Linked DNA regions of Homo sapiens: region 2 is linked to region 1. The links come from fine-mapping of genetic effects on gene expression. A gene starts in region 1. The other region holds a variant in brackets. All regions are shown on one strand. Distances are from middle to middle.

Region 1 (16,716 bases):
GCCATATACTTGTTAAAATGAGATATACTGAAATAAATTCAACATAAGGACTGGGAGTAAGTTGCAGAAACCTCCTGGAAAGCAGAACCAAAAGAAATAGCAAATGTAACATGAAAATAATTATCTAGAGAGTTATAATTTGACTGTGGTTACAGAAAAATATAGAGAAAATTACCAAATAAACTTTTCTAGAAACGAAGGACAGAACTCTCCAAATTGAAAGGGCTCAAGACTACATAAGAGCATCAAAGAAAAAAGACCAACACTAAGCACAATATACCATCTTGAAACTGCAGAAAACCAGAAGTAATGGGAAGATCCTATAAGTTACTAGAGTGGAAAAAATGGGTCACATACAAAGAGAACGTAATCAGAACAGCTTAACAGCAACAATAAAGTCTTAAGACAATGAAATAATGCTTATAATACTGAGAAAAATGTTTAGCCTTGAATTCCAATCTAGCAAGTACATTTGAAGTGGAGAACAGAACATGTTTTCAGACATGCAAGGTCTCAACAAAACACAACGACCAAAAACACTACCAGAGGAAGCTAAATGAACAGCGTGTCCTAGAAAAATGGGAGTGTGAGGCAGGAAATAACAAGATATGAAACCCAGGAAGCAGCGATAAAGGGGAACTTAAGGGGGATGCTATGCAGAAAGCATGGCAAGCAAACAATTCGGACTGGAGCAGGACCTCAGGTAGCAGAAGTTGTAAGAAAAGAAAAAGCATCACATGGAAACTACATCTCATTGGCATGTGGTAGAGATGGTGGTACAACTTGAAAAAACTGTGTATATAGAAGAAAAGGCAATTTTAAAAATTAATTTTTTAACTTGGAAAAACTTAGCTGTTCATGAAAGGCATGATTGTTATTAGGTGAGCTCTTTAATATTTACATAGTCTTAATAATGTAAATATAGACTACTGAATCAATTTGCTACATATTGTGAGATGGAAGTGGGCAGTGGAAATAAGAATGGTAGGAAACAATGAAAAACCATGAAATAACAGTATAAGCACACTGTTTAGAAAAATGAAAGTATGTAAGTCCTAAAAGAAATAGCTAAATAGCAGAGGGGCACTGCCTTTGCAAAGTGGGACTAGAGATGGGGTAAAGGGTAAGGAAAAGGACTGCTCTTTTCCTTAGAAGCAGGATGACCATATTTCCCCACTTGCCCAGAACAGTCCCAGTTTATGTGCTGAAAAATTCTAATTTATGCTTATTATCCCAGAATAATTATTAATAGTACCTACGCTGTCTCTTAAAAGTGGCCTCATTTGGATGATAAAGCATATGGTCACCTAACTTAGAAATCTTTTCTACCATCGGCTTTTTACAAACTATATACGTATTTGGTAAGTCCATACAAAATATTTCATTAAAAAGAGGTAAATTCTGAACTGGAAATTTTTTAAAGGCATTCATTAGAGAAAAGAATATTAATGGTTAAACAGTGACAATGCAAAAGCCCATGAACAATTTAACAAGTAGCAGATGTGGTATTTTATCAAGGCAGCTATGAAGACACTAAAGGGACTGTATTTGCAATCAGAGGATTTTTGGGAAACAAAATGCTTTTTAAAAGACATACGTCAATATTAAGTTCTATAACAACAATAATGTTTCCTAATAATACCTCTTATAGTTTACTCTGACTACATTTACACCCAGTTCTTACTTGCAGAACTAAACTAACCTAGTAGGAAATCTGCTTAAAACAAACCTCCTTGGGAGAAGGCAAAGAGGCAGAGTCCTTTGAGAGAGATAATTTGATATTGTATGGAACTATTTTTGGCAACTCCTCTACATAAATTGATTGAATTTTGACAATGTAGGTGTTACATGAAAACTTATGTAATTTGGTTGCGTAAGTTGTAGGTCAAAAGCACAAAATATAGTGAAAAACAAAAATGTGCAGTCCTTGAAAAACTTCTATCGAATCACTTAGAAGGTTCTAAGAGACATCTTTTCAAGTCCATTCATTCATTTAACCAAGTTTTTTGGATACTCATGCACTAAGCACAGTAATTAATACTTAACAAGCGAATGAGGTAGGGGGACAACACTAAACGTTCTGAGATGGTGCCTGTAAAGAAATTGTAGTCTAATATGGAACAAACTACACAAATAATCACATAACTTCAATAGTTCTAAGTGCTACAAAGGAAAAGGTATAGGCTGGGCATGGTGGCTTACAGCTGTAATCTCTGCACTTTGGGAGGCCGAGGTGGATCACTTGAGGCCAGGAGTTCGAGACCAGCCTGGCCAACACAGTGAAACCCTCTCTCTACTATAAATACAAAAATTAGCCAGGTGTGGTGGCACGCGCCTGTGATCCCAGCTACTCAGGAGGCTGAGGCACAAGAATCACTTGAAGCCCGGGAGGTGGAGGTTGCAGTGAGCTAACACTGGGCCACTGCACACCAGCCTGGGCAACAGAGAAAGACTGTCTCAAAAACAAAAAAAGAAAAAAGAAAAAGGTATAAGCAAGAGCAGACTACTGGAAAGAGGCATTTGAAGCTTAATGTTTTAAACCAAGACTTAAAAACAAATAGCGCAAAAAAAGTTCACATGTACAATCTTTCCTCAATGGTCAATGAAATGGTCTTTTCCTTCTGTCACTATGTCATGCTTTTTAAAATTCAGATTTCATTTCAGAGCTGGACAGTTAGGCTATCTTCCTGTTTGGTGATAAGAAACTTATCACCAGGGCTGATTTTGTAGGTGTGGGCTCCAAGCTTCATTAAAAGTTTTGCAACTGACATCCTGAAATTCTATCTTTGAATTTGTGTTTTATAAGTGGAGTCAGATAGGGCAGTGAAGTATGCCTCACTGAAGTCCCAGTCATGATAGATCCACTAGAATTTTATCCTCATGTTCCTCATCAACAAGTCTATGACTGAGGAAGGGGAGGCACTGACAAGAGGCTACACTTTCTATTCTCCAGAACTGGTATTGAGTGTGTAAGGAATCTAATTAGCTACAAAGCCACACACACACAGACAAAAATCGTACGATTGGTATTTGAGATTTTTCACTTATTGAACTTTTTGACTTCTGAGATGAAGTTTCTGGATGAAGATTCTCTGAAGCTGATAATGCAGCTGCTAGTTTACCTAATAAGACATACTTTTACTCTGTTAAGTATGTCTTCACCTTAAGGCATTTTAATAGTGGCTGACACAGCAACAAGAGTAAAAAACCTGTATTCATACCAATTCAACAATTTATGTAGTCTGTCTATATCTCACAAACCTGTGGGCTTGCTTTAGCTATGAAAAAAATGAACTGCTTTTTTAAATGAGTGACTCCATTCCTCTGGGCATCCTAAGAAACTCTGAAGATATCCAGGACATAAACAAGGTAAGGAATCTTAACAGGCCACCTCCTCACAATAAGGTGGACTCCAAAAGACCACAACCTCAGATTAAGAGTTAAGGTATTAGGCCCAGTGTGGTGGCTCATGCCTGTAATACCAGCACCTTGGAAAGCCGAGGAGGGTGAATCACAAAGTCAGGAGTTCAAGACCAGCCTGGCCAACATGGCGAAACCGCCTCTACTAAAAATACAGAAAAAAAAAAAAAAATAGCCGTGTGTGGTGGCTCGCGCCTGTAATCTCAGCTAATCCGGAGACTAAGGCAGGAGAATTGCTTGAATCCGGGAGGCAGAGGTTGCAGAGAGCCGAGATCATGCCACTGTACCCCAGCCTGAGCAATAGAGCAAGACTCTGTCTTGAGCGGTTGCGGAAAGAGTTAAGCTATTAATAGAAGTAAACCAGCTCTTGTGCAGATTTGCAGCCCAGGTTAATGTTGCCTGCTTGGTAAATGGAAGTTCAAATCCTGAATTTGGTTTAAGGTGGTCCCAATTTAGTAATCTACCAGGAACATGGCAGAAGCCAACATAAATCTTGCTAGAGGAATATACCTTCATGCTAACTTTCAAATTATTTCTACAAGTATTTTTTCAAGTATAACGAACAAGGGATAACTAAGTATACAGCAAAATAAGATACTACAAACAAGGTCTTTGAGACACAAGATGAGAGAAAAAAAATAGGGTAGCAAAAACATCAAATCAAGCATTTCAGGCAGATTATAAAACTATGCTTAGTGTGTTTGAATAAAGAGAAGCTTGAAAAATACAGGCAAGGAACAGGAAACTGCAAAAAGAGCACTTTTTAACAAATATACAATAGCCATAATATAAATACCACCATGAGGATGAGACACCCAAAATGGAAGACATTATGTAAGATAATTGGCCTAGACTCTTCAGAAATCCTCCATGGCTGGGTGCAGTGGCTCATGCCTGTAATCCCAGCACTTTGGGAGGCCAAGGCAGGAGGATCACGAGGTCATGAGTTCAAGACCAGGCTGGCCAACATGGTGAAACCCCATCTCTACTAAGAATACAAAAATTAGCGGGGCATGGTGTTGCGTTCCTGTAATCCTAGCTCCCTGGGAGGCTGAGGAAGGAGAATCGCTTGAATCCAGGAGGCGGAGGTTGCAGTGAGCCGAGATGGCACCACTGCACCCCAGCCTGGGCAACAGAGCAAGACTCCATCTTGGGGCTGGAGGGGGGAGGGCGGGACACTGCTCCAACATTCTTGGCCTCATACTAAGCACTAGGCAGCGGCAGTCCACTACTGGAATACTCTGAAGGTAAATAAAGCAATAATAAAGGTCATATCCATCTCGACTACAGACAAAACAAAGTCAACCCACCATACTAATGCCCCGACAGAAGAATATGCCCATATCAATGCATAAATATTGTTTATCTCAGTCTCTAATCTGTTCTGTTTTTAGTTTAGCATTTAGTCAAAACTTGTATGATACACAAAAATGCAAGGAAAAAAAATCACCCCATTACCAAGAGATAAAATGGCAGAACCAGACCAAGACATAGCCCCAATGTCAACAAACAAGCAAACTGATGGGTTTAACAATAGACTAGGTAAAATTGAAAAACTGGGGAAGGAGGAAATAAGCTAGAAAAAAATCCCCTCAAACTAAATTAGTATTAGGATCATTACGGGAAGAGACATGGCTCCAAGGATGAGGACCCAAAGTCGTGGAAATGGATAAAAGTCAGATTCAATACATACTTCAAGTCAGAAAGGATTTACCTAATAACTGGGAAGGGAGGCAATTATAATACTGATGAAGAACAAACATTTTACTGTTTTTCTTTCAGGGGATTGGGAGTGGGCGGGGTGGTGGTGGGGGGTGGTCAAGGAAGCACACCAAGATTAGTTGGTTTTGAAAAATGAGCTGTCTGGCTGGTTGTGGTGGCTTCCAGCACTTTGGGAGGCCAGGGCAGGATTGCTTGAGGCGAGGAGTTCAAGACCAGCCTGGGTAACATATTGACACCCCGTCTCTACAAAAAATATTTTTAAAAAAGAATAAGCAGACCAGCCTGGCCAACACGGTGAAACCTCGTCTTTACTAAAAATACAAAAAAAGATTTAGCCGGGCGGTAGTGGTGCACACCTGTAATCCCAGCTACTCGGAAACTGAGGTAGGAGAATTGCCTGAGCCTGGGGAGGTGAAGGTTGTGGTGAGCGGAGATCGCGCCACTGCATCAGAGTGAGACACTTTCTGAAAATAATAATAATAAGCAATTAGAAGTGCCCAGAAGGTCCAGGAGAACGCTGGAAATACAGTTTTGGAGAGCAGTGTGGCTGACGGTATATTTTTCAGTTACATACACTGATTTATTTACTGTTTTCCAGATACATATGCTACCTCCTTGCCTTCTACTTATACTGTACCTTCTATTTGGCACTCTTCCCACAAACTTATCTCTAGTAGAATTTGGGGTACTATGAAAAAGTAAATTGAAAAACTTCAGGCAGTTTAAGAGAACATTAGGAGGAAAGGAGTTCTACCAATTACCCTACTTATGATTAAAGCTTTCTCTGACCACAACCACAAGCTGCCTACCAGGTAGAGCTTGGATTTTTAGTTTATCAAATTTGGAAAGCTGTGAACTCCTAAAAGCAGTACAATGTCCAAAAGTTTTTCTCTGATTCTGCTTATGAAGGTTTTTCTCAAGTATTATGTATCCCCTTCCATTATGCTACGGATCACTGTGTCCCATTATTACAATAATGGCCTTGATCAGGTATCTGTCAAGAGTCACACAGTAGTCATAAAATAACCAGTCTAACAAAAATGCCTCAGCCCTATTAACACATGCTACCTCCCACACCTAAAAGTCTTTTCCTGTATGTTAATGTATTAATAAATATGTATTTAATATATTAATAAAATTCATTTCCTATTTTTTTCCAAAATAGAAAACTGAGGCTAGGCTAGGCAGGAAATAAGTCAATCTTTGCCTAATTTTTGCACATCAGCCAATTTCTATTTGTAGAAATACGCTAGCTGAGTGCAAGCTTCAAAGTCTGCCCCTCACTTGGTATGCTTGGGTATGACTCTAGGTATAATCTAATGCTTAATTTTCTCACCTACAAAATGGTGATAATGATAGTATCAACTTCACAGGTATATTGTGAGGTTTGCTGGCACACAGCATGTGTTCAGCAAATACTAGCTATTATTAACCAATACCATCAGCATGAAGGTTTTCATATAAACAGCTCAGTAGAAATTTTGTTGGCTTTTTCATTATTTGAAATTTGTCTTTAACACATAGTAAAACATCTTTCAAAGTCATTCAGATTTACATACAGGATATTCACTTCAGGGTAAAGAAACCTATACAAGATTACTTATATTAAGTATATGCATTAAACAACTGGAAAGAAATAGCCATTTTTATTATTTTGCTGTTATCTCGGGTGATGGTATTATTAATGTGTTTTTTCTTCTTTATACTTAGTTTTCAAAAAAATTCTTTAATGTACTTTGTTAATTGAGGGCAACAATTATTTGCCAGAGGAAAAGGCATTTTTAAAATAACTTGTATTACAGAAGTCCTAAGGAGAATAATTCCCTTTCTAATTTGCTGGTTTACAGCCTTAGTAGCTACTTACCACAAAAATAACTCTAGTAAAGACTAAGTGAAAGATAAAGTTAAAATACTTCACAAAATGAAGTTCAGATTACCTGAGTATGACTTAAAGTTTTTATCATGAAAAATTTTAAACATACACAAAGGTACAGCCAATAATGAGCTTCCATGTACCAATCAAGTCTTCAACTATTATCCACATTCAACCTCCCTAACCTATTTTACCACCCACTCTATTATTTTAAAGCAATCCCAAGCATGACATCTTTGAGGCTATCTATTCTTATAGTGGTCTAAAGAACCTATGGTAAATTACAAAATATGGCTACAAATGTCCCCCATCCTAGTATTAGCCCCCTTTGTAATGCAACGTTGCTGCACTGCCTAGGATGAGGCAGTCTTACTTCCCCACCCCAGTCTTGTGTGACTAAGAGAATGGACTGTGACACTGTAAGATTTTCAAGGTTGTAAGAGGTCTTACAAGCTTCTCTTAGAATACTGTCCCAAGATTCCTGTGTCATAAATGATCACAAAGAGTAAGGCCTATATGTCCACCAACACTAGCTGCCAAACATGAGTGATGCCATCTTGGATCTCCCAGCCAGGGAAATCCTCCAGCTGAATGCTGGTACATGAGGAGTAAGCCCCGGGCAAAATCAGTAGAACTGCCCAACAGGCACCTAGAACTGTAAAAAACAGTGAACAGTTGTTTTAATCCACTAGGTCCCGAGGTGGTTTGTTATGCAGCCATAGAACAAAGATTCATTACTTATCCTTATTTTCTACTGTTACCATACCATTATCTTATGCCTGCAGTCTCTGAAAACTCTGATTTTAACTGAGTCTAACCTGGGAACTATCTTAAATATCCAGGGAAGATTACAGGTACTGAATTACTAAAAGTACACCACTACTATAGGATAAACTCATGGCACAAAGGCCAGAGCAATCACACAAAATACCAATGTAATCTATCATTTTTTTTTTTGGAGACAGGGTCTCACTCTGCTGCCCAGGCCAGAGTGCAGTGGTGCAATCACTGCAGCCTCGACCTCCTGGGTTCAAGTGATCCTCCCACCTCAGCCTCCTGAGTAGCCTGGACTACAGGCACGCACCACCATACCCAGCTAATTGTTGTATTTTTTTTAGTAGAGACGGGGTTTCATCATGTTGCCCAGGATGGTCTTGAACTCCTGAGCTCAAGCAATCTGCCTGTCTCGGCCTCCCAAAGCGCTGGGATTACAGGAGTGAGCCACCATGCCCAGCCCCAATGCAATATTTCAAGAGTCTTGCAGAAATACAAACACGCAGTTACTATTTCATTATTTACATATACTTTGCATATCCTTTTCTTAAAAAAAAAAATCTGCTTCTGGGGAAATTTTTTTTTTCCTTAGTGGGAAATCATAGTAAACATGGAGACATGGAAGCTAAGGGTGGGTCAATGAGGGAATCACTTTGAAAGTATACAACATTTTGGGCCTTAAAAAAAAGTCTCCCTTAACTAACTTTTAGCTGACAAATACTTAAAACACAAAAATATGACATGCCCAAATCTTAAAAAATTAGAAAAAAGCTTAACATCCCATGAGAAAATATGACTATGATGTTAAGTCTACACTACACCACTGTAAAAGGCAAACTGTTCTCCTTGAAATGAATTTAATCTCTAAGCATCAAGTTTCGATCTTAAGTAGAAACCATTTTAGGGTTCTTTCTACAAAGTATGAAACATCACACTAATGAACAATGATCATAATGGAAAGATAACTACTTTTAAGGTTCAAAACTTGCCTTCTTTTTAAGCTGTTGACAAAAATGGGTGTAGAGCAGCAGGTGATTTTAAAACCAGGTGTTCAACTTACCTAGTCTAACCGGTAGAGTCAGAGAAATATATTTGAGGGCAGGAAAAACCAGCTCTGACCATGTAAGTTCATGCCAGGGCAGAAAGCTGAAAATTAAGATTAATGAAAATTAAACCCCAGCATGCAGTGACTCACACTCAGGCCTGTAATCACAGCGCTTTGGGAGGCTGAGGTGGGAGGATTCCTTGAGCTAAGGAGTTGGAGACCAGCCTGGGAAACATGGTGAAACTGTCTCTATAAAAAAATATAAAAATTAGTCAGACATGGTGGCGCGCACCTGTAGTCCCAGCTACCCAGGAAGCTGAGGTGGGAGAACTGCTTGAGTCTGGGAGACTGCGGCTGCAGCAGCCTAAAAAACAGAGTGAGACCCTGTCACACACTCACACACACAAAATTATTACCCCCCCCACCTAAACTCTCAAATTATAATTTCATTCTCCCCAACTTCAGACTTTTTGGCTCATCCTATGATTAGCAAATGCTGTATATTAAGATAAATTTTTTGACTGCAATTGAATTCTGCTTTGGTGAATTCAAGTAATCTTAGTAGGAACTCAAAATCCGATTCTTTTTAAATTGTAATCATTCTAATGTGATCAGTTGATTCACTTATTTAACAGTTAAAAGCTTCATTAGTTAATTTGTTGTTTAAAAGTAAAGTCTAATGCAACGCTGTGCATTTCATTCATTCATGTCCCATTGTTCTTTATTACTGGCACTTAATTATCTGTGGTAACAGAAGGATGTATCAGCAAAGATTATCTAAAAATTATTTTTATTTTGTTAAGGAACACAATAGCTCTCCATTCCGCAGCATAGAGCACTAACTTTATTTTTATTTTTTTAGAGACAGGGTCTCACTCTGTGGTGCAGGCTGGAGTGCAGTGGAGCTCTATCATACCTCACTGCAGTCTCTGCAACTCGTGAGCTCAAAATGATCGTTCTGCCTCAGCAGCCCAAGTAGCTAGTAGTAGCAGTGCGCACCACTACACCCGCACCACCATGCCCGTAGAGATGGGGTCTTTGTGGCCTGGCTGAACTCCCAGCCTTAAGCGATCCTCCCACCTTGGCCTCCCAAAGTGACGGGATTACAGGAGTGAGCCACCACACCCAGACACTAATTTTCTAGTACAGTACAGAAAGTCTTTTATGTCGGGCTCTAACTTACCATTCAATGTATGTTTCAGCTACAGGAACAAATCATGAATTCCTAAAACAAACCATAATATCATGACTTTGCAGTTTCTTTATCAAAGTCCTAGTGAGCCTTCACATCTTAGTTCAGGCAATAAATAAATAAATCCTGTAAAATTTCCAAGATTAAGCACCCCTCCCCTATGCTCCCACAGAACCACTGTACAGTCATATTAAGATAATAATAGTTGTTTATACATTAGTCTGATGACTAAACAGTGAGTTGTGGAGGGCAGATGCCATGTCAAGCTCATTCTTGTAATGTGAAGCTCTCCATAATTTGTAATTTGACTACAACAAATTACAAATTATCTAAAAAAGTTTTAAGATATTTGACAGATTTTGCATTATAAAATTATTTTCCTACAATAAAATGTCAAAATGTAGACGATTCTTGAACATAGAGCAGATAAAAGAGTTGTGTAAGGTGGGTATGGAGCGGACTAAAAATTGGCTACATGAGAGTCATGGATGACTTTTGTGTCCAAGTTCGTTACCTGACACCTTCATGTAGAACATAACCTGGGCATCCTCGTGCTTTATCTGGGAAAATAGCCCTCTTCCAGGTGGCAGAAAAAAGAAATCATTTGTACTTGAATAAGTAGGAATTCTTAATTCAAGACACCTGACCCAGCACTAAACTTGGAAAAAAACCAAGACTAGTATTATGTCCCCTAGTGACTGCTTCACACACCACCTCAGCAAATTTAATCCTCTCTAGAAATTAACTGCCATGTTTCTGAGACAATCTCGTGAACTTAAATAACTATGGCAAAAATCAAGACTCAAACCCAGGTCTTCTGAGTCTGGTGCTACTGCCTCATGCACCAGTCCTGTCTCCCAAAATGCTGTAGAGCTGTTAAATAAAAATATTATACTGACCTCATTTCTCAAACAAACTTTTTGCTACCTCAAGTAAAAGATCTAGTTACACTACATGTGTGCCTTCTTAATAACTGTATACTATTGGATTTTTAAATCGAAAATTCATCTTTAATCCTACATCTTGGTTCTGGACAGAAAGGTGGAGATTTAAAATAACATGTAATCAGAAAAATAGCTAATCAATCCTACAAAATGGGGGAGAAAACCTCGCCAAATTTCAGTTTTCACACATTTAACTAATAGTAACAAACAACATTAGTCGTGACGAATTTATTACCCAGATAGACTTTCCCAATATATTTACTTTGGTACTTGAGAAAAAGTATTAAGTGCAGCATTTTGGGGTGAGGGGGTGGACACACATCTTCAATACGCAGTTTCACCAAAATGAGGGAGTTTCCTACTCCCGGCGCCTTCTATATTTTTACTTCTTAGGCCAACAGGTCCATTTTTAATACAATCACCTACTTCGAGTTGCAGAACCCACAATTCACCACAACACAAAAATAACTCTCAGGGCGTCACGATATTCAAAAACTGACGTTACCAATAAGACAATCTTGGCCGAATCTAAGGGGCTACCGAAGTCACTTCGACTCGAGGCCGGGCTGGCCGAGCCGGAGCCCTGCCCGCCTTTGCCCCGCGCTCACCGGCGAGCTCACGCGCGACACCCGCGGCCCGCAGGGCTCCGAAGACCCCCCGCCCCACGGCCCAAGAGGAGGCCGCCCCGCGCCAAAGGAGGGCTCAGGCTTCTTCCCGTCACCCGCCACACGTCCCTGAGGAAGACACACAATCTGTCCCCTGCACCCGCCACAAACTCCACCACCCGACCAAAGGCCCCTGGCAAGGGAGGCCTGCGCTGTGGCCCCTTGGCCCCGGTGGCCCCGGACCAAGCTTCTCCACCTCATCCTGAGAGGAAGCGGCCTCCGCGTCCCCAGGCCTCTTCGTTTCCTCCCCTCCCCCACTCGCGGCCTGGTCCCGAACTAGCGCCCAAGACGGAGAAGAACTAGCTCCGCAGCTCATTACCCCGGCTCCTGAGCCGGCACCGACCAGTGCGCGTCCCACTCGCAGCAACACGCACCGCCGCCTTTCTCCTTGGAGTTCTAGGCCCGTGACTGAGGAAATGCAGTCGGCAGCGAAGCACAATGGCGCCCGCCCCTCTCCCGGATCCGGCGCAGAACCAGCCACCACCGTTAAGTGCCCCTCCCTGCTCCTCCTCCCCCCACTTCGCGGACTTCCTGGCTTCTCGCGAGAGTGGCGGCGCGGCGGGGACCGAGAGCTGCGGGCGGGCTGGAGGTACCCCACCGCGGGGTGGTGCTCTGACTGCGGGAACCGTTGAAGAGCTGCCCCCGGGGAGTCAGCGAGGCGCCACTGGTAAGCGGCAGCGGCTGGCTGGCCGGCGTGCCGGCAGCTGGGCTGGCGAGTGTGCGGGCGCCGGGCGCTGGAGGCCCGGGCCGGGGCGGTCCCCGCCCGTCTATAGTCTCTGAGCCAGCCCCTTCCCTCCCGGGCGCCGGGTCCCCGCCCACAGGCCCACCTGCAGGGCCCCGTGCTCGAAATAACGCCCAGCTGGTTGGCTTTTTTTTTTTTTTTTTTTCTTTTTCTGGCTCTTGGTAAGTGGCGCAGTGAATGTTGAATTGAATCAAGCACTGCCTTTTCCGACCTACCCCTCCCCGCTTGCTTCCCTGCCCGCCCTGTGTGATCTAACTGCAAGCCCTTTCCCTTAAGAGTTGGAGCCTGTTTGTCCAACCTTGTGATCATTTCCTTGTGGTAAGAATCTTGGTAAATGATGGTGATCATGTCTTTTAAAATCGTGATAGTAACCTTTAATAGCGTAGCCATCGATTTTGCAGTAAACAAATTCACCTATTTAGAAAGAGGGAGGAAAATTGTGAGGTGAATGGTCTGGTGAATATTAGATGAAACTTTCAAAGAACTGTAAATGTGGCAAACTAAGATGTAAATGAGTACTAATAAATAAAAGGGAGTAGGTTAGGGAAAAGCTACATCTAACTATGTGTAAATATTTAGATGATATGTTGATTTGGAATAATGAATCAAAAGTTTTTTAATGGAAAAGATCAGTTATTGAAACTTGGAAGAATACTGAAAGGCACTTGATTTTTTTTAATGACCTATTTTGTTAAGGTATTAAAAGCAATCCTTTGGATCCAAATAATTCCAATAAATGAAACACAGTGTTTCTACGTGTTTGTCATTACATCGGAAGGGAATGGAGTATCAGTCACTATCATCCTTATTTTATTGTCTTGGGGACTAACAGACTGTACATGTTTCACTATGATAAATTCTAAAATACTATAAATTTTAAAGACTTAAAGGTATTTTAAGTTGGCATGTAAGTGCCAATCTAACTTTTAGGATATGAAATGAAAATAAGCATCTGGTATGGGATAAAGTGAACAGAGATTACTTTTGAGGAAATTAATTTGCCCTTTAAAGAAAAATAATTCTTTTCCAGCCTGTTCGAGTGCCCCTGCAGCATTGTGGTTATAGATACACGGATGTATACACCCTGAAGAACCAGACTATATGGCTTCAAATTCCACCCCTGCCTCTTACTACCTTTGTTATCTCAAGCAATTCCTTAACCTTGCTAAACCTAGGTTTCCTGTAAAACGGGGTTAATAACAGTACCCATGCTCTGTAGCATTGTTTAGATGAGATAACACGTCAGTTCCTGAAACAAGTAAGCATTCCGTAATTGTTAGCTATTACATTCCATGTCTAAACCACCAATAATATTGTTTCTTTCTGTGACTTAATATTACATAGGTCTCTTAGACATCTTCTCAAGATTATGCTAAGAGAAATGACTGCACCCTTTTCCTGAGCTATGGCAGTCAGACCTGGCAGTGGTAACTACTCTACAGAACTCCCAAACCTGGCAAGGATGGTGCAGATTTTGGCAGATTATGGCTTTGTCCCCACCCAGCACTGATGATATTATAAAGTGAGTATGACACCAATTTCCTATGCTAAACAGAGCTTCTAGTTTTTTATTGGTGCTAGTAAATAAAGACCACTGATGAATATGTTTTTATTATTTAAGAATGGTTCGTTGTGTTTCTTTTTAATGTACTCTCTCTGATTTTAGTATTCAGGTAATTATCATGAGTGATAAATAATTATTGAGATTTTGCTATGCTGCAGACATTTTGCAGCCGGGCGCCGTGGCTCATGCCTGTAATCCCAGCACTTTGGGAGGCCAAGGTGGGTGGATCACGAGGTCAGGAGATCGAGACCATCCTGGCTAACACAGTGAAACCCTGTCTCTACTAAAAGTACAAAAAATTAGCCGGGCGTGGTGGCAGGCGCCTGTAGTCCCTGCTACTTGGGAGGCTGAGGCAGAAGAATCACTTGAACCCAGGAGGCAGAAGTTGCAGTGAGCCAAGATCATGCCACTGCACTCCAGCCTGGGCAACAGAGTGAAACTCCATCTCAAAAAAAAAAAAAAGACATTTTGCTAGGAATTATGGATGTGAATAGGTAAAACATGGTCATGGAAAATGACCATAGTTTCTTAACTAAAAATCGTCACAAAGTGATTTGACAGGCAAGTGTTTGAAGTCAAAACTGTTCCAGACAATCTAGACACCGTGCTTGCCTTTTATCCACAGAGTTCCCCCACTTGACCTTCCCTTGCTACTTTTTATCCTTTATGAGTGACTCTGACATACCTTTCTGTATCTAAATATCTTTGTTCACCACTTGCCCTCACCACTCACCTTAGTTTTCATTTTTAAACTTGGCTTCTTCTCTAAGTTAGCATCTTATTGACTATTAACCAATTTTCCCCCTTTTATTTTATAAACTTGTCTGTTATTTACCCATGGTCATTCAACCCTTTACTCTTATGTTTTGAGCATTTCTTCCACCTGATAGCTTAGAATGCTCTTTCAGATATTGAATTTCAAAGTTCTTGTTTTCCCCTCTTTTATTCATCCCACAACCTAATCTTCTAAAAAGCTTCTCTTTGGCAAGGGTAGTTGTAGAGATATCCTTTACTTTGCATAAATGGTGGGACATTGAAAAGATGTGGTTACATTTGCTTTTTGCAAATCATATAATTTTTTATTGATACATAATATTTGTATATATTTATGGGATACATGGGATATTTTGTTACATACATAGAATGTGTAATGATCAAGTCAAGGTATTTAGGATAACCATCATCTAGAACATTTATGACTTCTGTGTGGGTAGTATTTCAAGTCTTCCCTTCTAGCTATTTTGAAATAATGCAATATGATGTTAACTATAGTCATTCTACTCTATTATCAAACATTAGAACTTACTCCTTTTATCCAACTTTATATTTGTACCCATTAACCATCCTCTTTTTGTCCCCACCCCCACCACACACATACTCTTCCCAGCCTCTGATAACTATCATTCTACTGTCTACCTGATTGAGAACAATTTTTTCAGGTGATCTGCCTGCCTCGGCCTCCCAGTGTGCTGGGATTACAGGCGTTAGCCACCGCGCCTGGCCAAGGATCCCTGCTTCTTTTTTTTTTTCTTTTTTTATCCAGCCCAAAATGTCATGAGGACTCCTACTTCTAAGGGATATATTACTTAAAGGTCCATTGTTCTAAGTCTTTGATGTAAGGGATTCCTTTCATAACAAAAATAATAAACTCTCGATTTAGTGCCTTTATAAATTTTTATTTTCCCCACATCAAGTTTTATTTAAAGTTGCCATATTTAGTAAATGAACATCCAAAAAATTCTGTTGGTTGACTTCTACTGGATTAGCATCAAAAACTTTCAATTCCCCAAGCCAGTATTTAAAAGGATATAGAGGCCAGATGTAGTTGCTCAAGCCTATAATCCCAGGACTTTGAGAGGCTGAGTCAGGAGGATGCTTGAGACCAGCGTGGGCAACAAAGCAAGGCCCCATCTATACAAAAAAATTTTAAAAATTAGCCCTGTGCATTGGTGCATGCCTATAATCCCAGCTACTTGGGAGGCTGAGGCAGGAGGATTGCTTGAGCCCAGGAGGTTGAGGCTTGCAGTGAGCGGGGATCATGCCACTGCATTCAGGCCTGGGTGACAGACCCTATCTCAAAATAAATAAATAAAGAAATAAATAAATAAATAAATAAATAAATAAATAAAAGGTTATTAAAACACGTAAAGAGAATACCATCTTGAAACCCTGTCTGAGAAACCTCTCTTACATCTAAGCTTACAGGCTAGATCTCACTGCTTCTAGAAAGATCATTCCTGCTTTTAGTTGCTCTAGAATATCTGGCCTCACCAGGAATAATCCCCAATTTGTGGAACACTTGGAATTCAAACCTTGCACACTGCCTGAAATATATAGAATGCTTAAGAAAAGCAGATACATTTTATTCATGTTTTTAAGTACATGAGGCCTCATTCCATCTCCCAGGCTGGAGTACCCGGCGGTACCATCATAGCTCACTGGAGCCTCAAGCTTCTAGGCTAAAGCTGTCCTCCTGCCTCAGCCTCCTGTGTGGCTGTGACTACAGGTGTGCCACCACAGTGTGGGGCTAGTTGTTTTTAAATTTTTTGCTGCCCAGGCTGGTCCCAAACTCCAAGCCTCAAGTGATCCTCCCTCCCCGGCCTCCCAAAGTACTGGAATTACAGGCATCAGCTACCACATCCAGTTAACAGCTATATTTTATTTTTTTTATTTATTTATTTTGGAGACAGAGTCTCACTCTTGTCTCCCAGGCTGGAATGCAGTGGCTCAGTCTCGGCTCACTGCAACCTCCACCTCCCAGGTTCAAGTGATTCT
Region 2 (16,716 bases), 140 kb after region 1:
AATACAGTTTTCACATTCATTTGCCATATTTTTTTATGTGTCTGTTGAGGGCCAGACAATATTTAATCTGTGAAGATGGATCCCCTAATTGTAAATCATTGTATTTTTTGCAACTATATCCCTAAAATAGAAGTTTCCTATCACATTCTTTGAAGTGGAGCAAGCCACTTTACTCTTACAGCCAATTGTCTTCTTGTCTTCTTGACTTCTCTACCTGCACACTGACGAAGCATCTTAAATTTAACATGTTCAGTGTCAAAAGTTTGACTTTACCACTCCAAGTCTATCCCTGTAACAGTCTTCCCCATCTTAGTGACAACTCATTCTTACTGCACATACCAAGAAAACGCTATTTTATTAGTCTGCTCTTGCACTGTTTTAAAGAAATACTTGAGACTGGGTAATTTATAAGAAAAGAGGTTTAAGTGGCTTATGGTTCTGCAGGCTGTACAGGAAGTATAGTGGCATCTGCTTCTGGGGAGGTTTCAGGAAGCTCCCAATCATGACAGCAGGCAAAGGGGGAGAAGGCACATCACATAGTGAAAAGCAGGAGCAAGCGAGAGAGGGCCAGGTGCTATACACTTTTAAATGACTAGATCTCCCAAGAACTCACTATTGCAACAACAATACCAAGGGTATGGTTCTAAGCCATTCATGAGAAGTCCACCCCTATGATCCAATCACCTCCCACCAGGCTCCACTTTTAATACTGGAGATTACATTTCAGCATGAGATTTGGTGAGGACACAGATCTAAACCATGTCCTGTCATCCTTGACTCCTTTCTTGTCTACATTCTTGACTCTTCTTTTCTGTATCTTAACTCCTCTCATATCCCACTTATAAGGCGTCAACAAATTGTGTTGACTCTACTTTGAAAGTATATTTGAATTCTCACCACTTTTCATCACCTTCACTGTTCTATGGCCCAGGTTACAATCATTTCTTGGATATTTGTAGTAGCCTTCTAGGGCTTCTGCTCCTACTCCCAAGAGTCTATTATCAACATAGCAACCAAAGTGATCCTCTTAAAACCTAAATCAGGCTGGGCACAGTGGCTCACGCCTGTAATCCCAGCACTTTGGAAGGCCGAGTGGGTAGGATCATGAGGTCAAGAGATGGAGACCATCTTGGCCAACATGGTGAAACCGCGTCTCTGCTAAAAATACAAAAATTAGCCCGGTGTGGTGGCACATGCTTGTAGTCCCAGCTACTCGGGAGGCTAAGGCAGGAGAATCGCTTGAACCTGGGACATGGAGGATGCAGTGAGTCGAGATCGTGCTGCTGCATTCCAGCCTGGCAATAAAGCAAGACTCCATCTCAAAAAAAAAAAAACCCTAAATCAGATTACATCCCTCCTGTGTTCACACCCCACCATGACTTTACAATGATCTTACAGTGCAAGAGTCTTTACAAGACCCTACAATACATGATCTTCCTCGCAGCATTTTACCTCTCCCCTATTTCTTAATACACTTCTTCTTCACTCTGGGCCAGCTACACTAACCTTCTTGTTGTTTCTTGTATACTTATCAGACACATTCTTCCCTCAAGCTATTTGTATTTGCTATTCCTTCAAATAACCTTATAGCTTGTTCTTAACATCCTTCAAACCATTGCTCAGATGTACACTTCCACATGACTCTTTACCTTAACACTAACAAAAATAAACCGTCTGCCCTGTACTCTCTCTTTTTCTGCTTTATTTCCACCCCATATACTTATGGCCTTCAAATATGCTATAAATGTTTTTTTATTTATATTTTTGTTATCTGTCTCTCCCCATGAAGAAGGCAAGAATTTTTTTTTCTTTTTGTTCACAAATGAGTAGCATCTAGACAATATCTGGTACACAGTAGGCACTACATACGTTTTTATGGAATGAATGAATGCCATTGTACTATAATAATTGATTTACTTATGTTTGTTCCACTTGACTGTAAGCTTCTTGATTGGCAAGTGCTGTGACTCCTGCAGTCTGTTTCATAAGCGGTAAACATACATGACTTGCATGATGTTTGCTCAATTTATGAAAGAATATATTTCATAGCTGGATGTGGTGGCTCACACCTGTAATCCCAGCACTTTGGGAGGCTGAGGCAGGCAGATCACCTGAGCTCAGGAGCTCTAGATCAGCCTGGCCAACATGGCGAAACCCTGTCTCTACTAAAAATACAAAAATTAGCTGGGTGTGCTGGCTGGCACCTGTAATCCCAGCTACTTGGGAGGCTTAGGCAGAAGAATCACTTGAACCTGGGAGGCAGAGGTTGCAGTGAGCTGAGATCGCGCCACTGTACTCCAGCCTGGGCAACAGGAGTGAGACTCCGTCTCAACAAAAAAAAAAAAAAAAGAAAAGAAAAAAGAATATATTTCATATTTTTTACAGGTAAAATAACACAAATATGCATTGGAATTTTTTTTACTTATATGTATAAGTATTTTGTATTGCTATGTATTCTATATAATTATACACATTATTTTTTGTTGAGTTAGCTTTCAAAATCCTTATAAAACTGTAGGCAATTCATAAACAAAATAGGCAAATTGAAAAATTCTCTTGGGTTGATATTTAGTCATTTACTTAACTATTGATTATTATAAGCATTTAAGTGTTCCCAGTGTATATTTTTATAGGTAACGCTTCAGTGAATATCTTAGGAAGTCTTTAATTCAGTAACCTGGAGATACATTGTATTAGAAGAAATGTGTTAAATTTCATATTTATAAAAGAGCCAATAGATTTTTGTTGTGAAAAGATTTATTTTAAATAATATGAACATCCAGGCCCAGTGGCTTACACCTGTAATCCCAGCACTTTGGGAGGCTGAGGTGGGCTGATCACTGGAGTCCAGGAGTTCAAGACCAGCCTGGGCAACATAGTGGGACCCCATCTCTTAAAAAAAATACAAAAATTATTTAGACGTTGTAGTGCTGGCCTGCTGTCCCAGCTACTCCGGAGGCTGAGCTTGAACCTGGGAGGCTGAAGCTGCAGTGAGCCGTGATCGCACACCACTCCAGCGTGAGCTACAGAGTCTCAAAAAAAAAGTATGTGAACTTACCCAGTGCATTTATGTTTTCTGGTGGCTACTTATTTGTATTACAAAGCGATATATTCTTACCGGAGAAACTCAAATCTGTCCATTCATAAAGTAAATATATTCCCTTTGGCCCTGCTGATGGCAGTTTCCAGAACTACTTTAAAATGGTTTGCTGTACATTCTTTCAGACCTTTTTAATATGCACATGAATATATATACTTATTTTTTAAAATCTAATTAAATATGCATTCTGCAGTTTGATTATATATTCTACCTATGCAACAGAAGTCTGCCATGTGAATATATATAAATACGTTTTCTTTAAAAGGATTATACAGTGATGTGTAAGCATTTTTTTTATACTTTAAGTTCTAGGGTACATGTGCACAACGTGCAGGTTTGTTACATATGTACACATGTGCCACGTTAGTGTGCTGCACCCATTAACTTGTAATTTACATTAGGTATATCTCCTAATGCTATCCCTCCCCCCTCCCCCCACCCGACAGGCCCTAGTGTGTGATGTTCCTGACTCTGTGTCCAAGTGTTCTCATTGTTCAATTCGCACCTATGAGTGAGAACATGCGGTGTTTGGTTTTCTGTCCTTGTGATAGTTTGCTCAGAATGATGGTTTCCAGCTTCATCCATATCCCTACAAATGACATGAACTCATCCTTTTTTATGGCTGCATAGTATTCCATGGTGTATATGTGCCACATTTTCTTTATCCAGTCTATCATTGATGGACATTTGGGTTGTTTCCAATTCTTTGCTATTGTGAATAGTGCTGCAATAAACATACATGTGCATGTGTCTTTATAGCAGCATGATTTATAATCCTTTGGGTGTATACCTAGTAATGGGACAGCTGGGTCAAATGGTATTTCTAGTTCTAGATCCTTGAGGAATCACCACACTGTCTTCCACAATGGTTGAACTAGTTTACAGTCCCACCAACAGTGTAAAAGTGTTCCTATTTCTCCACATCCTCTCCAGCACCTGTTGTTTCCTGACTTTTTAATGATCGCCATTCTAACTGGCATGAGATGGTATCTCATAGTGGTTTTGATTTGCATTTCTCTGATGGCCAGTGATGATGAGCATTTTTTCATGTGTCTGTTGGCTGCATAAATGTCTTCTTTTGAGAAGTGTCTGTTCGTATCCTTTGTCCACTTTTTGACGTGGTGGTTTGATTTTTTTTTTCTTGTAAATTTGTTTAAGTTCTTTGTAGATTCTGGATATTAGCCCTTTGTCAGATGGGTAGATCGTAAAAATTTTCTCCCATTCTGTAGGTTGCCTGTTCACTCTGATGGTAGTTTCTTTTGCTGTGCAGAAGCTCTTTAGTTTAATTAGATCCCATTTGTCAATTGTGGCTTTTGTTGCCATTGCTTTTGGTGTTTTAGTCATGAAGTCTTTGCCCATGCCTATGTCCTGAATGGTATTGTCTAGGTTTTCTTCTAGGATTTTTATGATTTTAGGTCTGACATTTAAGTCTTTAATCCATCTTGAATTAATTTTTGTATAAGGTGTGAGGAAGGGATCCAGTTTCAGCTTTCTACATATGGCTAGCCAGTTTTCCCAACACCATTTATTAAATAGGGAATCCTTTCCCCATTGCTTGTTTTTCTCAGGTTTGTCAAAGATCAGATGGTTGTAGATGTGTAGTATTATTTCTGAGGCCTCTGTTCTGTTCCATTGGTCTCTATGTCTGTTTTGGTTACTGTAGCCATGCTGTTTTGGTTACTGTAGCCTTGCAGTATAGTTTGAAGTCAGATAGTGTGATGCCTCCAGCTTTGTTCTTTTGGCTTAGGATTGTCTTGGCAACGCGAGCTCTTTTTTGGTTCCATATGAACTTTAAAGTAGTTTTTTCCAGTTCTGTGAAGAAAGTCATTGGTAGCTTGATGGGGATGGTATTGAATCTATAAATTACCTTGGGCAGTATGGCCATTTTCACGATATTGGTTCTTCCTATCCATGAGCATGGAATGTTCTTCTATTTGTTTGTGTCATCCTTTATTTTGTTGAGCCGTGGTTTGTAGTTCTCCTTGAAGAGGTCCTTCACATCCCTTGTAAGTTGGATTCCTAGGTATTTTATTCTCTTTGAAGCAATTGTGAATGGGAGTTCACTCATGATTTGGCTGTTTCTCTATTATTGGTATATAGGAATGCTTGTGATTTTTGCACATTGATTTTGTATCCTGAGACTTTACTGAAGTTGCTTATCAGCTTAAGGAGATTTTGGGCTGAGACGATGGGGTTTTCTAAATAAAAAATCATGTCATCTGCAAACAGGGACAATTTGACTTCCTCTTTTCCTTATTCAATACCCTTTATTTCTTTCTCCTGCCTGATTGCCCTGGCCAGAACTTCCAACACTATGTTGAATAGGAGTGGTGAGAGAGGGCATCCCTGCCTTGTGCCAGTTTTCAAAGGGAATGCTTCCAGTTTTTGCCCATTCAGTATGATATTGGCTGTGGGTTTGTCATAAATATCTCTTATTATTTTGAGATACATCCCATCAATACCTAGTTTATTGAGAGGTTTTAGCATGAAGGGCTGTTAAATTTTGTTGAAGGCCTTTTCTGCATCTATTGAGATAATGATGTGGTTTTTGTCTTTGGTTCTGTTTATATGGTGTATTACATTTATTGATTTGTGTATGTTGAACCAGCCTTGCATCCCAGGGATGAAGCCAATGTGATCGTGTTGGATAAGCTTTTGCTGCTGGATTCAGTTTGCCAGTATTTTATTGAGGATTTTTGCATCGATGTTCATCAGGGATATTGGTCTAAAATTATCTTTTTTTTGTTGTGTCTCTGCCAGGCTTTGGTATCAGGATGATGTTGGCATTAAAATGAGTTAGGGAGGATTCCCTCTTTTTCTATTGATTGGAATAGTTTCAGAAGGAATGGTACCAGCTCCTCTTTGTACCGCTGGTAGAATTCGGCTGTGAATCCATCTGGTCCTGGACTTGTTTTCGTTGGTAGGCTATTAATTATTGCCTCAATTTCAGAGCTTGTTATTGATCTATTCAGGGATTCAACTTCTTCCTGGTTTAGTCTTGGGAGGGTGTATGTGTCCAGGAATTTATCCATTTCTTCTAGATTTTCTTGTTTATTTGCGTAGAGGTGTTTATAGTATTCTCTGATGGTAGTTTGTATTTCTGGGGGATCGGTGGTGATACCCCGTTTGTCATTTTTTTATTGCGTCTATTTGATTCTTCTCTCTTTTCTTCTTTATTAGTCTTGCTAGCGATCTATCAGTTTTGTTGATGTTTTCAAAAAACCAGCTGCTGGATTCATTGATTTTTTGAAGGGTTTTTTTGTGTCTCTGTCTCCTTCAGTTCTGCTCTGATCTTAGTTATTTGTTGTCTTCTGCTAGCTTTTGAATTTGTTTGCTGTTGCTTATGTAGTTCTTTTAATTGTGACGTTAGGGTGTCAATTTTAGATCTTTCCTGCTTTCTCATGGGCATTTAGTGCTATAAATTTCCCTCTACACACTGCTTTAAATGTGTCCCAGAGGTGGTGGTATGTTGTGTCTTTGTTCTCATTGGTTTCAAAGAACATCTTTATTTCTGCCTTCATCTCGTTATGTACCCAGTAGTCATTGAGGAGCAGGTTGTTCGGTTTCCATGTAGTTAAGCGGTTTTGAGTGAGTTTCTTAATCCTGATTCCTAGTTTGATTGCACTGTGGTCCTAGAGACAGTTGTTAAAATTTCTGTTCTTTTACATTTGCTGAGGAGTGCTTTACTTCCAACTGTGTGGTCAATTTTGGAATAAGTGCGATGTGTTGCTGAGAAGAATGTATATTCTGTTGATTTGGGGTGGAGAGTTCTGTAGATGTCTATTAGGTCTGCTTGGTGCAGAGCTGAGTTCAATTCCTGGATATCCTTGTTAACTTTTTGTCTCGTTGATCTGTCTAATGTAAGCATTTTTAAATCATTCCTTTGTTGAGGGACATTTTGTTTGTCTCTCATTTTGGGAAACATTGGGTTATACAGAAGTATTTTCTGTTCTGCATTATGGATCTCCAAAAAGGGCAAAGGGTGTGCACAATTTTCTGAACTTATTTTACCATAGAACTTTTCTTTTTTTTATGAACTGTGAATTTTTCAAAGAGTGTATTGTATCACTGATCCTCCATTAAAAGTATTTGAAGCTCTTGTCAATCTTCTTGTTTTACTTATAAAATTAAGAGTTAGTAGAAAATTGAAACCACAGTCTGTTTCTTGACTCTGTTGTTCAGTGTTGTTCCTTTTGCTTTGAATTTTTGTCTTCATTTAGTACTCTTTCCTGAATTCAAATAAGAAAGCTAAGCACTAGAGTTTTTATAAGGGAAAAGAACAGTTTTCATGTGTTCATACTAGGGAAAGTTAAAGTTTCTATGTCTTTAGGTTTTTCTTTTTGTCAGCAGGTGATATCTTGGTAGGTAATTAATGACAAGTGAAAACAAGTGAGGTTTCAGACAATTTGATGTAGCTTTCTTTAAATTACTTAAGTCCTCTAACATAAATGAACTAGTTCTTTTCTCATGTTGAATAATTCTTTTAATTACTTTAAGAATAGCTTGAAAAGCAGTATTATAAGTTTCAGTGTGTTTAGTAAGTTTCTTAGCTATTTCTTTAGCCTTTCTCCTTCCCATTAAGGTACCTACTTTTATTTCTTGTGGTGTATAAAAGGACTTTGGTCAATCTAAACTGAAGCAGATACGTTTTAAGATAGAGATATTCTTGAGTCTTGTCACATAATTGTTATTATTTTTCATCTTTCCCTAGGCTGTCAGGTTTCTCTAATCTTAGGGCACATTTAAAGTATTTTTCCTCCCTAACTGAACATTTGCTTGGATCAAGCAGATCATTTTGTGTAGTGAAAACAATCATTGGACCAAGAACTGGTATCCTCTTTTAGTTCTTTGTTTTTCAAATTTATTTAAAGAAATCAAAATAGTTTTTTTCTGATTATAAAGGTAATGCATACTTACAGAAAGTGTAACTAATGCAGAAATAATTTTTTAAAGACAGTTAAGTCACTTAAAATTCTACTATTTGGAGCTAACCTCTTTAACGTGGTAAATGCTCTTCCCTGTAAATATACACACACATTTATAAAAATAAGGTCATACTCTACTGGTTTGTAATTTTCCTTTTTAATCAATAATATGTTTTGGAACATGTTATTTTTTAAGTAAATTTGTTTTAGAGATAGGATCTCACTCTGTCACCTAGGATGGAGTGCAGTGGTGCCATCATGGCTCACTGCAGCCTTGACCCCCTGGGCTCAAGTGATCCTCCTGCCTCAGCCTTCCGAGTAGCTGGGACTAGAGGCATACACCACTGCACCCAACTAATTTTTAAAATTTTTTGGAAAAATGAGGGTCTCACTGTGTTGCCTAGGCTGCTCTTGAACTCCTGGGCTCAAGTAGTCTTCCAACCTTGTTCTCCCAAAGGGCTGAGAATACAGGTGTGAGCCACCGTGCCTGGCCACACTTTCCTTTTTTTTTTTTTTTTTTTTTTGAGACACAGTCTCACTCTGTAGCCCAGGCTGGAGTGCAGTGGCGTGATCTCGGCTCACCGCAACCTCTGCCTCCTGGGTTCAAGCGATTCTCCTGCCTCAGCCTCCCAAGTAGCTGGGACTACAGGCATTTGCCACCATGCCCGGCTAATTTTTTGTATTTTTAGTAGAGACGGGGTTTCACCATGTTAGCCAGGCTGGTCTCGAACTCCCGACCTCGTGATCCACCTGCCTCAGCCTCCCAAAGTACTGGGATTACAGGTGTGAGCCACCGTGCCTGGCCAAAACTTTTATACTTGTTACTGAACTGCCTTTCAGAGTGGTGGTATCAATTTACACTCACTCTAAAACTACCAATTCTGGGTTCTTTTTTTTTTTTTTTTAAACCTTTGATAATCTGATTGGTGCATGATGATAACTCAAATTTGTTCAAATTTGCATTTCTCTGCAAGATTTAGTTTATTTTCATGTATTGGTCAGCTTTATTTCTTTCTTATTTATTTGTTCGTTTTTATTTTTTGTAAAGACGGGGTCTCACTTTGTTGACCAGACTGATCTCTTTTATTTTTTTCTGTAAATTATCTGTCAACATCTTTTGACCACATC[G/A]ATGTTATGCTGTTAGAGCTTTCCATATATTTATTTGTGTAATCCTCACAAGAATTCTTTTAGGTGGGTATATTTGTTCTACTTACAGTTGAGGAAACTGAGATGTGACTCAGTAACTTGCCCAAGATTACAAAGCTAGTGTATAGTAAATCTAGGAATCAAATTCAGATTTCCCTTACTGATTCTTAGTAAGAGCAGCTAGGTTTAGTTGACCTTTTAAATAACATTGTGGAGCTAATTTATATTCTTAGTAATGTTGTGAAGCTGTTTGTTTCTCAGAAATTCTTTAAGTTTCTAAATCTTAAAGGAAAGATATTTTACTAATGTATGTGAATTTTGGTCCTAGCATTTTAGGCTGCTGTTTGTAGAATTGAGCTTTCTGTCCTCCAAACTTCATGTAGTCTAAAATGAATGAAGGAAAACATATAGATTCTTAGATTTTCTAAGAATGTATTTTTGGAGATTTCATATTCAATCATGTTAAAATTTTTTTCTTTTGAAAATGATATTCTTGAGTACATACTAGTATCACTTCAAGAGTTTTATAATCATGTTAATGGAGTACATATAATCATGCTTTTTGTGGATTTTGACCTATTATTCCAATTTCTAGTCTACCAACATTGTTTTGACTCTTCAAATTTTAGAAGTGAGTGATCTAGGGTCTCCATTCCTCACTTTACAGGTTAGGAATCTTAGAGAGGTTCAATAATTAAGTAGTGGCAAATACTGTGGTCCAACCTTAAAAGCAGTTGTAATTTCATTTGGATCATTTGGGTGTTGACTTCTTTGGAGGCAAAGGTTTGTTAAGCCTTCTCAACTTAATGAATTCCTCCATTTACCTTTATATCCCTAATATTATAACTCTTTATAACTCTGTGTCTAGAAGATGGTAAGCCCTTGATACATGCCTGTTGAATTGACTTCACTTCTATTTTTTATCCAGTATATTTTAACCTCTTTCAGGCTATCTACTCTCCCTTTCTGCATGGTTTTTTTTCTTTGGGAGGCAGAGTGTTGCTCTGTCGCCCAGGCTGGAGTAACCCTGGTATGAATGAGGGAAGGTCCAAAAGGGTCCTGAGCATAGAAGCATAGGACTCCCTGTGGAGTCATTCTCCATTTCCTGTTCCCCCAACTCCCATTACCCACTATCCTACTTTCTCTCTCTATGGATTTGCCTACGCTGGACATTGCATGTAAGTGGAATTATACAATATATGGTTTTTTGTGACTGGCTTCTGTCATGTAACATAATGCTTTCCAAGTTCATCCTTGTTGCAGCATGTATTACAACTTCATTTTATTTTCTTTTTTCTTTCTTTTCTTTTCTTTTTTTTTTGAGATGGAGTCTTGCTGTGTTACCCAGGCTGGAATGCAGTGGTAGGATCTTGGCTCACTGCAGCCTCCGCCTCCTGGATTCAAGCGATTCTCCTGCCTCAGCTTCTTGAGTAGCTGGGATTACAGGCGCATGCCACCATGCCCAGCTAATTTTTGTATTTTTAATAGAGATGGGGTTAGGCTGATCTCGAATTTTTGACCTCGTCATCCACCTGCCTCAGCCTCCCAAAGTGCCGGGATTACAGGCGTGAGCCACCGCGCCCAGCCTTCATTTCATTTTCTTACCAAATAATATTTCATTGTATGAGTGTGTCATATTTTGTTTATCCATTTATTATTTGATGAACACTTGAATAATTATGAATAATGTTGCTGTGAACATTCATGTACAAAACCTACATACGTGTAGGTTTTTTTATGGACATATGTTTGTAGTTCTCTTGTGCATATAACTAGGAATGGAATTGCTGGGTGACATAACTCTGTTTAACTTATTGAGAAACTGCCAAAATGTTTTCTAAAGTGGCTGCAATGTTTTGCAATCCCACTGGCATTGTGTAAGGGTTCCAGTTTCCCCACATCCTTACAAACACTTATTAGGTTTTTTTTGTTTTGTTTTGTTTGTTTGTTTGTTTTTTAGCCATTCTAGTGAGTGTGAAGTGCCATCTCGTGGTTTTGATTTGCATTTCTCTGATGACTAATGATATTGAGCATCTTTTCTTATGCTTATTGGCCATTTGTGTATCTTCTTTTGATAAAATATCTATTCAAACCCTTTGCCCATTTTAAAATTGTGCTGTGTGTGTGTGTGTGTGTGTGTGTGTGTGTATGTGTGTGTGTGTGTGTGTGTCTGTCAGTCTCTCCATCTGTCAGGGTCTGGGTCTCACTGTGTCATCCTGGGTAGAGTGCAGTGGCACATCATGGCTCACTGTAGGCTCAACCTCCCAGGCTCTAGGGATCCTCCCCCTCAGCCACCCAAGTAGCTGGGACTATGGGCACATGCCAACACACCCAGCCAATTTTTATATTTTTTTGTAGGTAAGGGATTTTGCCATGTTGCCCAGGCTGGTCTTGAACTCTTGGGCTCAAGCGATCTACCTACCTTGTCCTCCCAAAGTGCTAGGATTATGGATGTGAGCCACCTGTGCCTGGCTGTGTTGTTTTTAATTATTGAGTAGTTATAAGTGTTTTTTAAAAATATATTTTGGATACAACTGTCTTCAGATATATGATATACAAATATTTTCTTCCATTCTGTAGGTTGTCTTTTCACTTTCTTGATAGTGTCCTTTGAAGGACAAAAGTCCACGTTATCTATTTTTCCTTTGATTGCTTGTGCTTTTGATGCCATATCTAAGTAAACATTGCCTAATCCAAGGTCAAGAAGATTTACGCCTTTATTTTCTTCCAGGAATTTTACGTTTTTACCTCTTACGTTTGGGTCATTGATTCATTCTTAGTTCCTTTTTGTGTATGGTGTGAGGTAGGGGTCCAGTTTCCTTCTTTTACATGTGGATATTCAGTTGTTCCAGCACCTTTTGTTGAAAAGATATTCTTTCCCCATTGAATTGTTTTGGCACCCTTGTCAAATATCATTTGACTGTACATGTAAGCAAGGGTTTGTTTCTTGAATCTCAATTCTATTCTGTTGATCTAAAGGTCTAGCATTAAGCCATGCTACTCTGCTTTGATTACTATAGCTTTGTAGTAAATTGAAATCAGAAAGTGTGAGCCTTCCAACTTTATTCTTCCTTTTCAAGATTATTTTGGCAATCCTGGCCAAAATAATCCAAAATTTAACTTTTCATGCTATTTTATCTGAAATTACTTTCTTCAAGGTCACTTATAATCTTTGGCCCAATTCAGTTATACCCCACCCCTAATTTTTTAGTCCTTTTTCAGTTTTCTAGAAAACTATCTCGTTTCCCACTTTCTGGTCCTCTTTTTGATATTTTGCCCTCATAATATTTCTTTTTATTTTCCAGCAGGTAGTGAGCACTTCTCATCTTCTAAGCACCCTGTTAATCTCTGGAAAAGAAAATTCCAATTAAACACAATCCTCATTCTCATGTTGCTTAGGATAAATAATATTAAGAGAGAGGCAGGTACATTCATGCTAATCTCTGTGTTTCATAAAGGAGAATCTGATTTTTGTTTTTGTTTTGGTTTTGGTAATGGATGTTGGCTTAAGTGTTTTTAAACTTGAAAATAATAGTTTAAAAGCATGTACTTATGTTAAAATAATTGTAAAATATAAAAGCAAGCACTATCTATATGGAAAAATTCAATACAAATGAATTGCAAGAACAGCAAAAATCTAGCTCTAAAAAGTGTTACAAACATGCCTATGCATAATAATAATAAAATATATGAGTAGTTTAATATATCTTCTATTTATTGTTCACTTTCACTTATTTATTGATTTATCCAAAATAAATGTATTGAGTATTGTGTGTGCTTTTCCAAAAACAAATTCTCCAATTATTCAGCACCAACTTTGTCTCAACAATTTAATTCCATTCTGACAGTAACTGTTCAAAGTTATTGTAGACCCCACAGTTTAAGGTCTCAGTCCCATAATACTGTCCCCACTTCAGATGCCAGCCACCAGTAGGGTCTCTCAGTTACTCACAGTTCTGACAGGCTGAAACTAATCAGAGGTTCCCACAACCCCCTTCAGTTTCAGTTATTTGCTAGAGACTCATTGAGCTCAGGAAAGTGCTATACTTATCAGTTTATTATAACAGATAACAAATGAGCATCCAGTTGGTAAGGTATATAAGGCAATGTGTAATAGGATCCTGAGCATAGGAGTCTCTGTCCCCTTGGAGTCAGAGTGTGCTACCCTCTCAGCACATGGATCTGTTTACCAACTTGGAAACTCTACAAATCCCGTAATTTAGTGGTTTTTATGGGGGTTTAATTACATAGGCATGCTTGATGAAAACTGGTGCTGTGGTTTGAATGTCCCTTCCAAAAATCATGTTGAAACTTGATGTTGCCATTGTAACAGTATTAAGAGGTGCAGCCTTGAAGATGTGATTAGGCCACAAGGGCTCCACCCTTATGAAGGGATTAATGCACTTACCTGGGAAGTGGGTTTGTTATCTTGGGAGTAGGCTCCTGATCAAGAGATGGATTTGACAGATATCCTCTCTTTATCTCGGGCACTCCCTTGCCCTTCCATCCTGTTATGATGGAGCATGGAGGCCGTCACAAGATGCCAGTGCCATGCTCTTGGACTTCCCAGCCTCCAGAACTGTGAGCAAAATAAACTGCTATTATTTATAAACTACCCATTCTGTGCCATTCTGTTATAGCAGCAGAATAGGGACTAAGACAATTGGCCATTAGCAATTGAACTCAGTGTTCAGCCCCTTTCCCCTCTCTGGATGTCAGGGAGTAGGCCTGAAAGCTCTAACTCCCTAATCATGTGGTTGGTTTTTCTGCAGAGCAGACCCATGATGATGCTGTCTAGCTCTCCCCACCCCATAAATCATCTGTTTAGCATAAGAGACAGTAAATTCCAGGGTTTTTAGGTTTCTGTACCAGTAACTAGGGGTAAAGATCAAATATTTATTACTACACCACAGCATCTACTATATATTATAGGGAAGAAAATATATCTACACATCCTAGATTCATGGCTAAGCTTCCCACACATGCTGTTTCTCAGATTTCTTTAGCTTAAAATATTCAGTATGTCACAGTGTCATGTTTTTTGGGAGAGCATTTCCTGAACCCCATCAGTATCAGACATAATCCTGGCTTTTATGAAATTTGAAGACAGAAAACAAATTGATAAAAAGAAAATCCTGGCTGAGCGTGGTGGCTCGTGCCTATAATCCCAGCACTTTGGTAGGCCAAGGCGGGCGGTTCACTTGCAGTCAGGAGTTCAAGACCAGCCTGGTCAACATGGCAAAACTTCGTTTCTATTAAAAATACAAAAATTAGCCAGGCATGGTGGCAGGCACCTGTAACCCCAGCTACTTGGGAGTCTGAGGCAGGAAAATCTCTTGAACCCAGGAGGAGGAGGTTGCAGTGAGCTGAGATTGTGCCACTGCACTCCAGCCTGGGCAGCAGAGTGAGTCTCCATCTCAAAAAAACAAAAAAAGAAAATGCTAACAATAGGGGATAAATTATTCAATGATAAAGATATGCACAGCATCTTATGGAATATTAGGATTACCACACTTATCCAACCTGCAGGGAGTGCTATGAAGCACAACTAGAGTTGGAAGGGAGAGGTCAGAGGTTAAAAAGTATTTCTGGAGAAGGTTGCTTTTTGCTTGACAAGTGGAAATAAGACAGAGACAGAGAAAGGGTGAAAAATGTGCTGGGATATAAATGACAGGAAAGGGTCAGTCAAGGTGAGGTCACTATCTTCTCAGGGTGATATATAGGAAAGATTTTCTAATTGAGTATTACTTACATTTTTTATATCCTGTCTTCTTCTATATTGTGAAATCCCATTAAGAATACTGTAAGGAGGCCGGGCGCAGTGGCTTACGCCTGTAATCCCAGCACTTTGGGAGGCCGAGGCGGGCGGATCACGAGGTCAGGAGTTTGAGACCAGCCTGGCCAACAGTGAAACCTTGTCTCTACTAAAAATACAAAAATTAGCCAGGCATGGTGGCGTGCGCCTGTAGTCCCAACTGCTCGGGAGGCTGAGGCAAGAGAATCTCTTGAACCCAGGAGGTGGAGATTGCAGTGAGCTGAAATTGCGCCACTGCACTCCAGCCTGGGCCACAGAGCGAGAGTCTGTCTCCAGAAAAAAAACAAAAAAAACAAAAAAAAACTTTAATGAAATTCTGTTTTCTAAAGTGAATTTGGTTTCTAAGTAAGAACATTCTAAGTTTTAAGTTTTAAACCATAGATAAGAATCTTTATTCTCCTTACACTGGTATTGTACCTCAGAGGAAGGTGAGGCATAGATAATATATACAACTTAGTTTAACACATGTATATTGAAAACGTACTATGTATCAGAGACTGTGCACAGACTTATTTCATCATGGATTTTTTTTGTATTTTAATCTATTGACCTGGCTTACTTGAATTAAGGTAGACAACAATAAAAATGATCTCACAGGTGAATTAACTGCTGAAAATTACCTAATTTTCATTTATGTACTTTTTTTTTTATGAGACAGGCTCTTGCTCTGTCACCCAGGCTGGAGTGCACTGGGGTGGTCATAGCTCACTGCTGTCTCAAACTCCTGGGCTCAAGCATTCCTATCACCTCAGCCTCCTAAGGTGCTGGGATTACAGGTGTGTGCTACCGCATCTGGCTACATTTTTGAAACACTATGACAAGAAAAATGTTAGAAAAGTGAAATCATTTTTGAGTTTTGAATCTAAAAAGTACATTTTTAAAGTTTAAATATCTTTTATTATATGTTACTTTGTAAAATCCTAAATCTACCAACTCTCAAAAAAATGCAAATATTATATTTGTATCTTTTTATACTTTTTCTGCTTAATATTAGAAAACTTGCTGGGGAGTTGGGTAATTACAGAAGTTTAGCATTAAATTTGTTTCTTATTTTTATTAAAAATTTTTTGCCTGTCTTGCCTAGATATAAGGAAAGGAAGAACAGAATCTGCACGTGTTGCAAAAGTTGATATTCTTTGAATTGCTCCCCAAACAATCATTGTTTCATCTTGAATAGCTCATGTCATAATTTTTTCAGAGACTGTGGGTAGCCATTCTCTTTGATTAATTCTATCTTTTATGCTTGTTTCATTCACTAGCAGTTTGAGAACAATAATCTATTTTTCATTTAAATCTTTTTTGGTTGTTTTGAGAACATCGCTGAGTAGTGTAAATATGTAATGCTTATGTTTCATTTATAATAGAGATATATGTTGAAATTGTAAGTCAAGGCATAATTTGTTATGGAATGGATCACATCTATTAACTGTTATTTAGTAAATGCTGCCAGTGCATCAATAAGTAGAAAAAAAAGATCATTTCAAGTAATCTAGTGTCACGAAAACCCTAATATGAGGGAAAACTTGTAAATAGTATAATAAAACTCATGTACTAAGATAGTAGTGAATTACAATTTATGCCTAATCAAATTTAGATATTCAGGTGATATAAGTTTGACAACTTTTCATGACCTTGTCCTCTTCTCCCAGTATTATTGTTGAAAATTCAGCTCTTAAGAATCACAATTAGGAAACTCAGAAGTGTTATTTTCACTTTAGCTACTAATTGAA

The links.
Region 2: its variant is fine-mapped to the expression of MARCHF7 in whole blood (INTERVAL, PIP above 0.99). The same link has a PIP of 0.9 or more in fibroblasts.

The regions. Positions count from the first base shown.
Region 1 is chr2:159,707,900-159,724,615 of GRCh38, reverse strand. It overlaps MARCHF7 (membrane associated ring-CH-type finger 7), which reads right to left and starts at 12,110. Exons shown (of 12, transcript NM_001282805.2): 1 at 12,010-12,110; 2 at 10,018-10,059; 3 at 8,850-8,935. It also overlaps a transcript of BAZ2B not described here. RefSeq lists silencers at 11,512-11,631, 12,152-12,661 and enhancers at 11,822-12,101, 11,869-12,535.
Region 2 is chr2:159,568,746-159,585,461 of GRCh38, reverse strand. All of the region lies in intron 1 of BAZ2B (bromodomain adjacent to zinc finger domain 2B), which reads left to right. Among named protein-coding and RNA genes, the nearest start is that of BAZ2B-AS1, 38 kb to the left of the region's middle. The variant G/A (reference allele first, on the strand shown) is at 9,154.